Linked DNA regions of Homo sapiens: regions 2 and 3 are each reported to be linked to region 1. Evidence: microRNA targets listed by miRTarBase, many of them from high-throughput screens and not tested one by one. Region 1 holds a microRNA gene; each other region holds the end of a gene's coding sequence.
Evidence for each region. Region 1 holds the annotated microRNA hsa-miR-4723-5p (UGGGGGAGCCAUGAGAUAAGAGCA, at 1,412-1,435, opposite strand). A microRNA usually pairs through its seed, bases 2 to 8, with sites in the 3' UTR of a target mRNA and lowers its output. Matches are read on the target gene's strand: a 7mer-m8 pairs with bases 2 to 8, a 7mer-A1 pairs with bases 2 to 7 and ends in A, and an 8mer does both.

Region 2: miRTarBase lists VPS37D as a target of hsa-miR-4723-5p. Seed matches in the 3' UTR shown: 8mer at 302-309, 7mer-m8 at 338-344 and 7mer-A1 at 671-677.
Region 3: miRTarBase lists AFF2 as a target of hsa-miR-4723-5p. Seed matches in the 3' UTR shown: 7mer-A1 at 3,464-3,470.

What each region holds. Positions count from the first base shown.
Region 1 is chr17:28,357,518-28,362,094 of GRCh38, reverse strand. It overlaps MIR4723 (microRNA 4723), which reads right to left and starts at 1,441; the gene lies at 1,361-1,441. It overlaps VMA12 (vacuolar ATPase assembly factor VMA12), which reads right to left and starts at 4,448. Exons shown (of 6, transcript NM_152464.3): 1 at 4,214-4,448; 2 at 3,106-3,179; 3 at 2,691-2,780; 4 at 1,524-1,566; 5 at 1,248-1,360; 6 at 1-938. The coding sequence starts at 4,424. The coding sequence ends at 843. POLDIP2 (DNA polymerase delta interacting protein 2) reads left to right here and starts at 4,568. Exons shown (of 11, transcript NM_015584.5): 1 at 4,568-4,577. RefSeq lists enhancers at 4,191-4,290, 4,403-4,577 and a silencer at 4,481-4,577.
Region 2 is chr7:73,671,137-73,675,394 of GRCh38, forward strand. It overlaps VPS37D (VPS37D subunit of ESCRT-I), which reads left to right. Exons shown (of 4, transcript NM_001077621.2): 4 at 1-974. The coding sequence ends at 240. Among named protein-coding and RNA genes, the nearest start is that of VPS37D, 5.4 kb to the left of the region's middle.
Region 3 is chrX:148,990,950-148,995,207 of GRCh38, reverse strand. AFF2 (ALF transcription elongation factor 2) reads right to left here. Exons shown (of 21, transcript NM_002025.4): 21 at 1-3,997. The coding sequence ends at 3,876. Among named protein-coding and RNA genes, the nearest start is that of AFF2, 490 kb to the right of the region's middle.

The DNA.
Region 1 (4,577 bases):
GTGTTGTCACAGGAGTTAAAATAGGAATACCCTGCATACAATAAATATTTATTGGATAAATAACTAAGCCTGATACCCTTTTCAATGCGTTATACAGACTCTATCATCACACCACTAATCTAAGTTCTCAGAAGTTAAACATTACAAGACTTCAGAACAACATAGGCGTCTTTGGCTCCATTTAACAGAAGAAGGACCATAGTGATCATTTAATCTCTATGAGTCTGTCTTATCTTCTGGAAAAGGGGCCTAACACCATTTCCTTTTGCAAAAAGGTAGCTGCCTTGCTTCCAGTTCTACCATCCTCTAGCAACCCATCTTTCTCTTATTTGATGTCTCTGATCAGCTCCTCTTCCAGCACAAACTGGAGAAAGGGGATCCTTTCTGTTTTCTTGGAGGCTTCTGAACTCAATTACAGGTCTGCATTAAAAATGTATGGAGAAAGCTGGTGATCAGTTTGTACATATGGACAAGTTCAAGGCAGTATGGTCTACTTCTGGGAAGGCCTGGATTCCATTTGCTCCTGATGGAAAAACCCTAGTCCCAGCAGTGTTTAGAATGAACTGGAGAAGGCAGATGGGTACCAGATTCAGGAAGAGGTACTGATAGACCAAGACCAGTTCTTTCTGTTTTAAAGATGTGTTATCTCAATCTCCTCCAATGCTCCCTTTGGAAATTCACAGAAGATTAGGGCTCCCCACAGAAACAGCAGCTGGCCTGGGCTGGTCTTCTGACTAACTGGAGCTGAATACAAAAAGTCTGATGGGTTGACTGAGTCGGTGACTGCCAATTGGAGCCTGAAGCCCCCAAAGTCTTCTCTAGACTTGATGATGAAGCACCAGTTACAGTTCTCCCAGCTCGCCTTCCATTGCCCGCACCATGACATACAGCTCGGCCAGACCCACCACAGAGGCGACGATCAATGCAGCTAGCACCCGCTGGAGATGGGGAGAACCAGGCTTAAGGGATGCAGGCCAACAACCAGCTCTGTACCCCAGCAACTTTAATGAGGATGGAGAGCCCCCCAACCACCCTCTAAGTTGGGGGAGGGGAAGAAAAGAGAATGTGGCTTCTCCTGGGGTTATTACCTAACCTCCCGTGACTGCTGGAAAGCTCTAATGCTCCCCTTATTAATGGCATAAATATCTGTTCAATACCTAACCTGTGCAAGGCACTTTCACATACGTCCTCCCTTACCCACTAACACCCCCACCAGGGGCACCCTGCCCTGCCCAGTGCCTACTCACCGAGGCCATTTCTGTGAAGATATATTGGCTTCCAAGGTAAGTGCAGACGAAGGCAGCAACCACCGTGACAATGAAATTGAAGATGGTGATGACCAGAGCCTTCAATGATCTCACTTTGGGGAGGAGCCAGAGAGGGCACCTTTAGTTCAACATTCTCTAGGAGGTGCTCTTATCTCATGGCTCCCCCACCAACTGGGTTTCAGTCAAACAACAAGCCTGAGTGTCATGACCCATCTCAGGAAAAGGTTTTAGAAGCCTGATCTCCTAGTACCTCACCTTGCTTTCCCAGGTCGCTGAGAGTCCCACCATGTCTTGTATCCTGGGAAAAAGAAAAAGAAGATGATTCAGAATAGAAGCAGCTCAGAGAGCATCCATTGACAGTCTGGCTCAGCCCTCTCTATTCCCCAACATATTAACTCTGCCCTCCCCATGGATTCTTTTGTCTGGAACCATTTTGACTCTTTTCTGGACTACAGAGCAGGCATTTCGGAGAGAGGACATAGGCTGCCAGTACCCATCTACTCTCCTGTTCCAGGGTAGGAGCATGCCATAGAGTAGTAGGGAGCCCTGTCAGAAGAAATGCTCGAATGGCTGGGCACAGTGGCTCACCTTGTAATCCCAGCACTTTGGGAGGCCGAGGCAGGAGGATCACCTTGAGGCTGGGAGTTCAAGACCAGCCTGGCCAACGTGGTCTCTACTAAAAATACAAAAAATTAGCCTGGCGTGGTGGTGCATGCCTGTAATCCCAGCTACTTGGGAGGCTGAGGCATAAGAATCACTTAAACCTGGAAGGCGGAGGCCGCAGTGAGCAGAGATCCTGCCACTGCCCTCCAGCCTGGGTGACAGAGTGAGACTCCATCTCAAAAAAAAAAAAGAAGAAGAAAAAAAGCCTCCAAGATTCATTCCCACTTATTTATTTATTTATTTATTTATTTTGAGATGGAGTCTTGCTCTTGTTGCTCAGGCTGGAGTGCAATGGTGCAGTGTTGGCTCACAGCAGCCTCTGCCTCCGCCTCCTGGGTTCAAGTGATTCTCCTGCCTCAGCCTCTCGAGTAGCTGGGATTACAGGTGCCCGCCACCACGCCAGGCTAAGTTTTGTATTTTTTGTAAAGACGGGGTTTCACCATGTTGGCCAGGCTGGTCACGAACTCCCGACCTCAAGTGATCCACCTACCTCAGCCTCCCAAAGTGCTAGGATTACAGGCATGAGCGCCGTGCCCGGCTAACTCCCACTTCTATGACGTTTAAAACTTGGTCACCATCTCAGCCCAGAGTCTCAGTGAATGAGATGGGAACTGTGTTGTTTGTATGCAGACTTCCTATGGTCCCTGAACAGTATAGAAACCAAGTTTCCATGTTTTTTCTAAACTCTGTATCTTCTTCCACTGCAGGGCCCTACTCTGAGGGGCTACCTAGACCACGTACTGAAGAGCATGTCCTTACCTGACAAGTGACGTTGCGGGTGATCCGTTTATATTCCTCATTGGCCAGCTGTATCTTAATCTTCTCCAGCCGGGCAACTAGTTCTGGGTTCTGAAGCAGAAAAATCAAATGAGAAGAATGATATTCCCAGCTTGTTAGAAAGCACATCACAATCATTGGTTCCAGGGGTAAAGCACTGCTAAAGGTATCAGGAGACCCACATACTAGTCGTAACTCCAGTGCTTTGAAACTGTTTTTTTTTTTTTTGATCTCAATTTTCCAAACAGCTGATGGGGAGGACAATATCTGGCTCCCCCAGATCCCAAAGATTTCAAAAACAATTTTTCAAGCCTAAAAGTTGATTTATAAGTTCAGTGTATCATGGATAAGCCCAACTCAGTCAATAACCACTCTCACAAACATATCCCTTACATACCCGTGGAGGCTTCACAACCTCTGGGAGATAGATTTCACTGCCTTCTAGGAGCTCATGGAGGTATAGTTTGGAATCTGAGAAGAAAAGGTTTCACAAACACAATGATCCACGAGCTGAGGTTGAAGGGTTAAGATCAAGAGGGGTGTAGCCCTTCTTTCTACCAAAATAAAACAGGGCCATCTCTACATTAATCCATTTCCAGGATCATTTTCAATTGAAAAGAATTTTGGATAATTCCATGTAGGTATCTCCCAGTGCTGCGCAGGTGACTTTAGCTGTCAGCTCTCAATTATCCTGCCAGTGTTATAACTAACAAGTAAGCCATTTACTTGTGCCTTTGGGTTAGATCAGTTCTGTGGCCACAACAGCTCTTCCCTAAATAAGTTTAGGTCATAGTGATGCTAAATGCTCAGAGGACACTAATACTAGGCAATCTCTTTCTAAGGTCCTTTCTAGTTCTAATAATTGAGCAGTCTACCCTTTGCACTTCTGGCTGGTCTATGTTACTTCTGGCAAAATACCTTATGTGCTAGTTTGTCCTGTTCCTTCCCTTTACACATAAGGGAACTGAGGCCCAGCGAGGAGAAATGACTCCTTCAAAGGATTAGTGACAGAGCTAGGACTGGAACTCACATGCTACTCTCAGGCCAGATCTTTCAACACAGCTTTTGCCATCCTATATTAAAAAAACAAACAAACAAAACAAAGTATCAGATTTCACCACTCTTGCTTTTGAGGTGGAAAGAAATCCGGATTCCTACAAGCTCACTATGCTAAGCTGATTCCTAAAGTGGAGAAAAAGAAGAGACAAAACCTGTGATATTTGTATTTGGTAAAAACCTAGACTTTCTCAAGGGTGAATTGGGCCTAGGTGTGCCTGGAAGTGAAGAGGGGGCTCTCAAAAGAGCAGAAACTGCACAAGCAAATTTGTCATCCACGAGAAATTCCCATGGGAGTTAAGAAAGTGGGTGGCCCTGGGATTTATGGAGTGACTCTTGACTTGTCTAGATGAGTGCTCCGTAGAAGAAGGGGAATGATGGGAAAAGACCTCAGGAGGGAATCGATCTGGACACAAGGAGGGGACCCCGGACTGGAGACTGGGGCTCACCCCTTTCTCTCAGATGCTGGTGCAGATCCCGGATGAGACGGAAAGAAACCAAGCGTTGGGGGCCACTGGAGCTATCACCGCCCTTGTGCTTCTTCCCCAGCGCGGCCTCAAGCTCGGCCCGCAGCTTTCGGGGTAGCCGCTCTGGCTCCAGCTCCCCGCCGGGGCCCAAAGCACGCACCAATCGCTCGCCCGCAAGCAAAGAGGACGCCATATCTAGCCGGCTCTCCGGTCAGGTGACCCCAACCCGGACTTCCGCCCGCCGCGCGCCGGAAGTAACGCTAAGCGCACCGGAAGTTGCTCTGAGCTCCGGGGTGGGACCAGGCGGGCCAAGAGGGCCGGGACGCCGCGCGGGGCAGTGTGGGAC
Region 2 (4,258 bases), not on the chromosome of region 1:
CGGCGTCGGGAGCGTTCTGCCCAGCCGGCCCCCACCTCGGCTGCTGATCCCCCCAAATCCTTCCCGGCTGCAGCTGTCCTGCCCACTGGGGCCGCCCGGGGGCCACCAGCAGTGCCCCGGAGCCTGCCCCCCTTGGACTCCCGCCCAGTGCCCCCACTGAAGGGCTCCCCCGGGTGCCCCCTCGGCCCGGCCCCCCTGCTGAGCCCTCGGCCCTCGCAGCCAGAGCCCCCCCACCGGTAGGATCCACGGTGCGGCCCCCCAGTTGGGGGGCCTAGACAAACTTGATGCGTGGCTCCTCCTCCTCCCCCACTGCCTGGGTGGGGGGAGGGGCAGGCCCCTCCCCCTGGCCTCAGGCAGGCCCTGGCCCTGGAGGCTGAGCTGGGGAGGAGGGTCCCCTGGAAGAGGCCCGAGAGGGGGCTGGGGGTGGGTGGGCAGGGCTTTATGCCTCTGGCGCTGAAGACACCCTGCCTTTTTTGTTTCCGTGCCCCGGGGCCTCTAGGGTGATGGACCAGCCCCGTTAAAGAACTTGACTCAACTACAGGGGCCTGGGAAGATGCCTGGGTCCCCTAGGGGCCTTGCCAAGGGGACCTGTCGCACCCCACCACTCCACTGGGCTCGCACAACGCCAAGGCCGCCAGGAGTGTTTTACATCATGTCCTGAGCCTACCTTTCCCCCAAATTCTGGGGCCCACAGCCTAGGAGCCAGGTGATCAGGCCTCGGCTGTGGGGCCAGGGACACCATGGCCCTGGGGCTACTACGTGTCCACACATGCTCCAGACCCTGGGGCAAGGTAGGCCAGGGGCTTCTGACCTGTGCAGGTGAGAGTGGGCCATACCCAGGAAAGACCATTCTGTATTTTTCTGTCCCTGTCTCCTTAGAATGGAAGCTTTTTGAGGGCAGGTCCTTGTCTTTGTACGTTCTGTCCCCAGCCCCGCCTCTTAGGGGCCGTCAATAAATGTGATGATGAGGATGACGATGCTGCCCGACTCCTCTCTGCTGTTGCAGCCTCCACAGCTCAGCTCCTGTGCTTCCACTTCCTACTTTTGAGATGCTCTCCCCTCCTTTCTGCCCATGCAAAGCCCAGCTGTCCGGGTCCAACACCGCCGCTGCCTCTTCCATGAAGCCTTCTCTGATTACCAACCCGTTGAGAGCCTTTCCTAAATCTTAACTTCCCGGCATTTCCAGTCAGAAGCGCTCACTGCTCCATCTTGGTTCTCCAATTGCCTCACCTGTACGCATCTTTTCCTGGGTTGCCCATAAGCCCAATCGGGATGGTACCTGGTCTTCTCTGGCCTGCCAAATGACGGTCCCCACGGAGTGATGGAGGGCATTTTGCAGGACTGATGGCATCTGTCCTCAGCCAGGGGGAATGCTAGGTGCCAGTTTGGCTGATGATTGTGGAACAAGGAGGTGGGATATACCCTGGGTCAGCTTAGGTCAAGTCCAATGAGATGCAGTTTGGCAGGGAGGCGTGGAAGTTCTTGCAAACAAAAGGGGACAGTCACAGTGTTGTGGAAGCCTACAAAGCTAATATGGTGTTGGTCCATGTTAATAAGGACATAACTATCTGGAAAGAGGAAGGTGTTGGGGTAGCTTTGCTTTTCACTTAAGTTTTTTACTGGAAGAGGGTCCCCTCCCCCCACCCGCCCCAAATGGCACCTTTGGAGAAACAAGGATGAGAAAGAACAGTCAGTGAGGAACAGTTGAGGGATCTGTTTCAAATGTGTTTGTGTGTGATGTTCAGCCTTTGAATCTCTAAAGGGTTGGGTCACCTAGAACCAGAGGTTAAAGCCAAGACCAGTGGGTGGGAACCACAGGTCAAAGCTAAGACCAATTGGTGGAAACCGTAAGGGGCCGGATTTTGGCTCCGTTTGAGGCTCTTAAATTAGGGATGAGGCCAGGAGCGGTGGCTCATGCCTGTAATCCCAGCACTTTGGGAGGCCAAGGTGGGTGGATCACCTGAGGTCAGCAGTTCAAGACCAGCCTGGCCAACATGGCGAAAACTCATCTCTACTAAAAATACAAAAATTAGCCACGCATGGTGGTAGGGACTTGTAATCCCAGCTACTCAGGAGGCTGAGGCAGGAGAATTGCTTGAACCCGGGAGGCAGAGGTTGCAGTGGGCCAAGATCACGCCACTGCACTCCAGCCTGGGCGACAAAAGTGAAACTCCGTCCCCCCACCCAAAAAAAAAGTTAGGGGTGTTCTGTGAGGTGGATGGTCCCCATCCCTGACGATGTGGGGGCAGCAACTGCTTGATGGGCTTTTTAGAGATGTCGGCTGTAGCTAGAGGGATTGGGCTGTGGGAGCTTTAGAGCCTCAGGCCTAGACAGTCAGAGTGTCCCCCTAGTACAGGCACAGTTTAAGCACTGAGAGTGCCCACTTTAGAACCTCCATCCCACCTTGGTCTTGGTTCTACTCTCTTCACTGCTGGCACTTCAGCTGCTGGAGGCCAAGGGACACCAGAACCGCTGAGTTCCTGCTGATATGACCAAAGACTGAGCAGCCTTGGAAGACCTCTCCCCCATGCTCTCCTTCTCAGCACAGTCTGGGGCAGGATGGGCCCCTCCTGCCCTGGCTTCCCATTCCTGGTCCAAGCTTCCAGGGTGCAAAGCAGTCCATTCCCACGAAAAAGTACCTTTGTCCCATTTTTCTGAAAATGCATGGTTCCCTGCTGTTTTTTGTTTTTTTTTGCTTTTTGTTTTTTTTTGAGATGGAGTTTCGCTTTTCTCACCCAGGCTGGAGTGCAATGGAGCGATCTCGGCTCACTGGAACCTCTGCCTCCCACGTTTAAGCCATTCTCCTGCCTCACACTCCCGAGTAGCTGGTATTACAGGCATGTGTCACCAAGCCCGGCTAATTTTGTATTTTTAGTAGAGACGGGGTTTCTCCATGTTGGTCAGGCTGGTCTCAAACTCCTGACCTCAGGTGATCTGCCCGCCTTGGCCTCCCAAAGTGCTGGGATTACAGGCGTGAGCCACCGCACCTGGCTTTTTTTTTTTTTTTTTTTTTTTTGAGACGGAGTCTCGCTGTGTCGCCCAGGCTGGAGTGCAGTGGCGTGATCTCGGCTCACTGCAGGCTCCACCTCCTGGGTCCATGCCATTCTCCTGCCTCAGCCTCCTGAGTAGCTGGGACTACAGGCGCCTGCCACCATGCCTGGCTAATTATAATTATTTTTGTATTTTTAGTAGAGACGGGGTTTCACCATGTTAGCCAGGATGGTCTCCATCTCCTGACCTCGTGATCCGCCCGCCTCAGCCTCCCAAAGTGCTGGGATCACAGGTGTAAGCCACAGTGCCCGGTCCCCACTTTTTTTTTTTTTTTTTTGGCTCTCCTTCATGATTGACATGGTGTAGAGTTTGCAACCAAAAGGTAAAAAGGGGCAAAGGTTGGGCAGGTCTGGACCTTTCTCCACTATCATGAATTGGGGAGCAGCCTTTAGAAGGCAGCAGCTACCAGGTTGAGCCTCCCCTCCTCAGGGTAGGTAAGAAGCAGAGAAAGTTGAGACATGGACAAGAGAGGGACTAGGAAGAAGTGTTACCATGGGAACCAGATGGGGTCCTTCAGAAGGCCTCCCACACACCTTGTCTTGCACAGAGCTGATTCTTCTTTAGAGGGGCAGGGAGTGAGACCCCTCTGTGTTCAGCTCCAGCCTGAAAATGATCGGAGGCAGGTGAGGATGGACACCACCAGAGTGGAGTGGGCCCAGTTCTGGGTGGGCCATGGAAAGGCTTACAGTTGGATGGTTTGAAAAATCATTAACCCCTTTTGCTTGAAGGTACATGGAATGTTCAGGAAGGTTCTGGAATGTTCTGGAAGGTGCAGCACTCTGGGCCCTTCCTTTTGCCTAAAACCTTCTTGAACTTGCTGCTTCTAGATTCAGGGGGCCCCAGGAATGTTCCTGGCTGTGATCTGTGAGAGAAAACAAACTTGAGGGTCTGCATCAGGGGGCTCATGAAAAAGGTCCTACCTATTAGATACCATTTTGCTTTTACAAAACAAAACCAAAGAAGTCTCCAAATAAAACTCCCACCCCTTTTAATAAAAACAGAGCTCCCTGTTCCTCAAGAAAGTCTATTATGTACACCTCCTTGTTTGTGAATCACTAGCTTCTGCATTTTTCTAACCTTCCCCATCTTGGTTTCCAAATATGAAACATAGTAACATTAAATTGCTTTTTCTTTTTCCTAACCAATCAAGGCTCACTGAGCTAAGCAGGCTCCAACCAGTGTGGGCTCAAACCTTCACCACTGAATC
Region 3 (4,258 bases), not on the chromosome of region 1:
AATTAGATTTTAATTATGAGAATAAGGCCGTGCGAGTGAAAATGAGAAACAACAACAACAATAACAACAACGATGAAGAATTTAGTCTGCCAGTCATGTAACAGAACACTGACAACTGGCTCAATAATTTTTCCCCACAGAATTAAATTTGGGGGTGCTGAATTGACCCATTCATTTGATACTGTGTAGCTGTATCATCTTGCCACACATTTTTCTCAATGGGGATAGTGATGCTTCTCTAAGCAAGCAGTTCATTGCTTTACTGAGTAGTCTTACCCAGTGATCCAGTTTGGTTCTCCCACCTGCCAACTCATGCAGGTGAATTTTATCATGTCTGTTGAGAAGTATGTGAGGCTTCACCCTCACAACTCAACTGATTCTGCCTTCAAAGATATTTTCCAACCTCAAACTCCAACTTCAACCTCCGGGATGCAAATTTGCATGAAACAGAATCCAAATTAGATATCTTTGGGAAAGATATGCTAGAAGAGTATCTTTCCAATGCAGACAAAATCTAATGAATTTAGTGATGTAATGTCCAAATGAAAATTCATCCATTTGGAAACTCAACAAAACACATTTTTAGCCAATGGTTTCTAATTTTGCAACTTGCTTTTTGCCTGAAGATTTTGGTCTTTTCATTTCCTTACATGGAAAAAAAGGCATCCCGACCTTAAGTCTTTTAAAAGTAGTAGCAGCTAATCTGCTTTTCCAATTATGTCATCCAAATATAAAACTACTAGTATTTTCCCAATGAGATTATTAAGTAATTAACAGTCTACAGGCTGGCTAACAACATGCTTACAGCTAAATTCTACCCGGAGGACCACACTAGTAAACCCTTTTCAAAGTAATCCTACCTACCAAACTCAGACAGTTATATGACAAAACCACTAAAAATCCAAAGTTAATTAAAAATACAAAGCCAAGCCAACATCATAACACAAACTTGTCAAACTCTCTGTGGTTGGAGCTTGGGTGACAAGTGAAGGCGTAGTGGTGGCCCTACCTGGGTCAAGTTGCAGGGCTGAGATCATTTGGTGTACTTGCTCAGATGGAGCTTCCTTTTACTCTGCCCTCTATTCTAACCTCCACGTGCTTATTTAAGTGTGTCTCACCAAGCCTCCATCAAGATCTAGAGGCACGATCTCTCACTGCCATCCACATGTCTCATATCCCTCCCACAAACTGGTATACTGAAGAGATTCATTTGACAGAATATCTCCATCCCTTAGTCCCTCAAATAGCTGCACACCTACGACACGCATCACCATTTACACTGTGATGAACAGAGTAACTATAAAACAGCAACAATCCTTAATCATGAAACTGAAAGATGTCTTATCTCAAGGGATAGGAAGGTAATTCATCCTCCATGTTTAATTAGTTCCTAAGCTGCTTTATAAATGAGTCTACTACATAATCAAGTGGTGATCCAGAGCTCGATTGTCAGATTTGGTCACTGTGCTGCAGACTTGGCACATATTTTACACTCAGTCACCAGAGATGACAGAGAATCCTCTTGCCTCCCTGTTGTATGTAAGTAGATATAACAAGTCACTGAAACTAGAACTACAAGTCTTTCATCCATGAGGCAATATGCTTGTTTCTCTGGGAAACTGCCTCAACATTCTAATGTCTAGTTTCTGGATGTGGGATTTCAAGAAGAATCTACTCCTAAATCCATGATGGTCTAGGATTGTGGTTTAGGTTGAACTTACAAGTCAAGCCAGTGGGCTTCATTATATAGTAATAGCCAGGCACTCTACCTGGTAAACCATGATAAAGAGACAACTTGAGTCACTGCAAAGTCATCAGCTTAATTTTTATATGTGACACCAACCTTGGGTGTTCAGAGTCTTTAATGTTATCATCATTTTCCTCTTTTAAGAGGCTCAGAAAAGATTCTTTCAGGTTTCATTTGTGAGTGTTTGGATGCATAAGTGTTGTTGCTGAGACTGTAAACATAAAGCTCAACCACAGTGGGAGCATAAAAAGTGCTGGGTTCAGCTGCAGGGATGCTCCCATCAGCCATATTAACAACATGGCTTCAGCCATTGGAGTACAACTTCCACAGCCTTATACAACAAAAGGCCTTAAACTCAAAGATGACCAGAGCACAGCTCAAGTCTGGCTGTTTTGCAACTGGGGATATATCTAACCTTGACAATGAGAGTGCAGAGTCATCACCTGCTGTTTCTATCATGGACCTGCATGGCTGGCTTTAATAATCACACAAGTTTGCATCTTTCATGTGCATATCTATTATTTATCTGGTCATAACTCAGTGAACAGAATTTGATAACCCAGCATATTAAAGGCTACATGGAATTATATACCAGCAGGTAATTACCAGTAAGTAATGCATGGATAGTGTTTACCCCAAGTGTAAGAATCTTCTGGTGAGCTGGAACATCAAAAATGATATTTACATTGTGATGTTTAGGGACATAAAATGAATGTGAAGGATCATAAGGGGGTAGTCACAACCAGTGAGAAATGTCTCCAAATTAGGTGAATGGTTCCCAATGTTTAGGGCTCTTTCAAAGCATCTCAAGGTGAAGCACTACCCCACGACTCATTTTAAAAAAATAAAAGTTAGCTACTATTTAGAGAGTTTGGAGTTTTCTTAGAAATTTTCATGGAAATGATTCACAATAATATGGACTTTAATAAAAGGAGTAATTGTAATTCAGTCAAAAGTTAATGAGCCAAACAAAGGAAAGGGAAACACAGATAAGAGAAAAAAGAAAGTAGAAAACAGAAAACCTATAAGAGAGAAAATGTGAATAATAATTGAGGAAGTCCAGATTTTCAAGCCACTAGGAAGAAAACTGTATATCATTACTTCTAGGTAGTGATACCTTGACTTTTGTTCCCATAGATTTGAGCAAAATACAATTTAAAAATCCTGCCAGTTATGGACCCACTTACCAACTGTGTAAATGTTGTTGTTGCAAAGGAGGCAGAGGTGTGAATTCCTTGTTGGACACTTTCCAGACCTCTCTTAACTCCCACTTGTAAGTCTAGAGTGTAGCATTTTGGCTACTAAGGCATGCATCAACCAAACTGTTCTTCAAAAGGACAGCTTTGCACACAGAGAACCCCAGGTGAGGATTTACACTTCAAATAATGGAGTTGAAAAACACTGATGCCAGCTGATGCCTAAAACTTGTCAAAATAAATGTCACCCTTTCTTCTTATCATTAAAATTAACAAAATAGGGAATCAGGAAAGGGATGCTAACAAGAAAGTCCTCTGGTTGTGTGGCATAGCATCTTTTTAAGAGTAGCATTGCTATGCTCATTTATTTTCTTGATACTCTTGATTTTATGATGTTGCTACAACATCTAACCAGTGGGTTTTGACAATGAAAATTCTCACCTGAAGATTGAATCTGTGGGATACACAAAAGTTTGACAGATTCTGAAATATGTTCTTTTCTGGGTATAAGAGTAGAGTTTGGGGGATGGTCCCTTGTGTCTAAGTTCTCATGTATATGTAAGACCACTTGTTGCATTTCTCAGGAGCCTGTCTTTATCACAAGTGCTTCCCATTCTTTGTTTTGGGTAGTGTGGGCTTAAAACAATATTGTAGGGACTGTCATTCCATAAAGCACAAAAAGATGGTGGAATCTGAGAAATGCATATCAAATGCTAAAAGAAAAAAAATGACTAAGTAATAAAACGTACACTGCCCTTAAGTTGTAGTGTCAACTTACAATGACTTCTGTTTTTTACAGATAACAAAAGAAGCATAAAAACAAACATAACCAAAGAGAACGTTCCCCAGTGAGTGGAGTTCCACCAGTGACCATCAGTGCGCTGGTAGAGGTAGAGTGATGGGTCGTGATGCTAGAGATCTGAGAACACCCACTACAACAAGTGGGCATCGATGCGCAGCCAACACAGTCCTTGGCGAACGTAGCGGACAAGATTGGTCATGCTGCTGTGCTGGGTCAGAGGCCCCATCAGCGTGTCCAGATCACCAAAGAATTCTGAAAAGCAGAGCAGTTCTCAGTTAGGCCTTTATATGATATCATGAAAATATGCACCACATTGAGAAGCTGCTTTCACACAACACCACAACCACATGGACAATGGAAATGTGATTCATTTGTCCATTCATTCATTCAACAAACATTTATAGAGTGCCTACTAGGAGACCAAAACTCCACAAGTTTATCAAGCCCTATTATTTTAATCTTTAGTGAGCTCCAAAAACTCTGCAGTACATAATACATTTATGTTTTCATAGA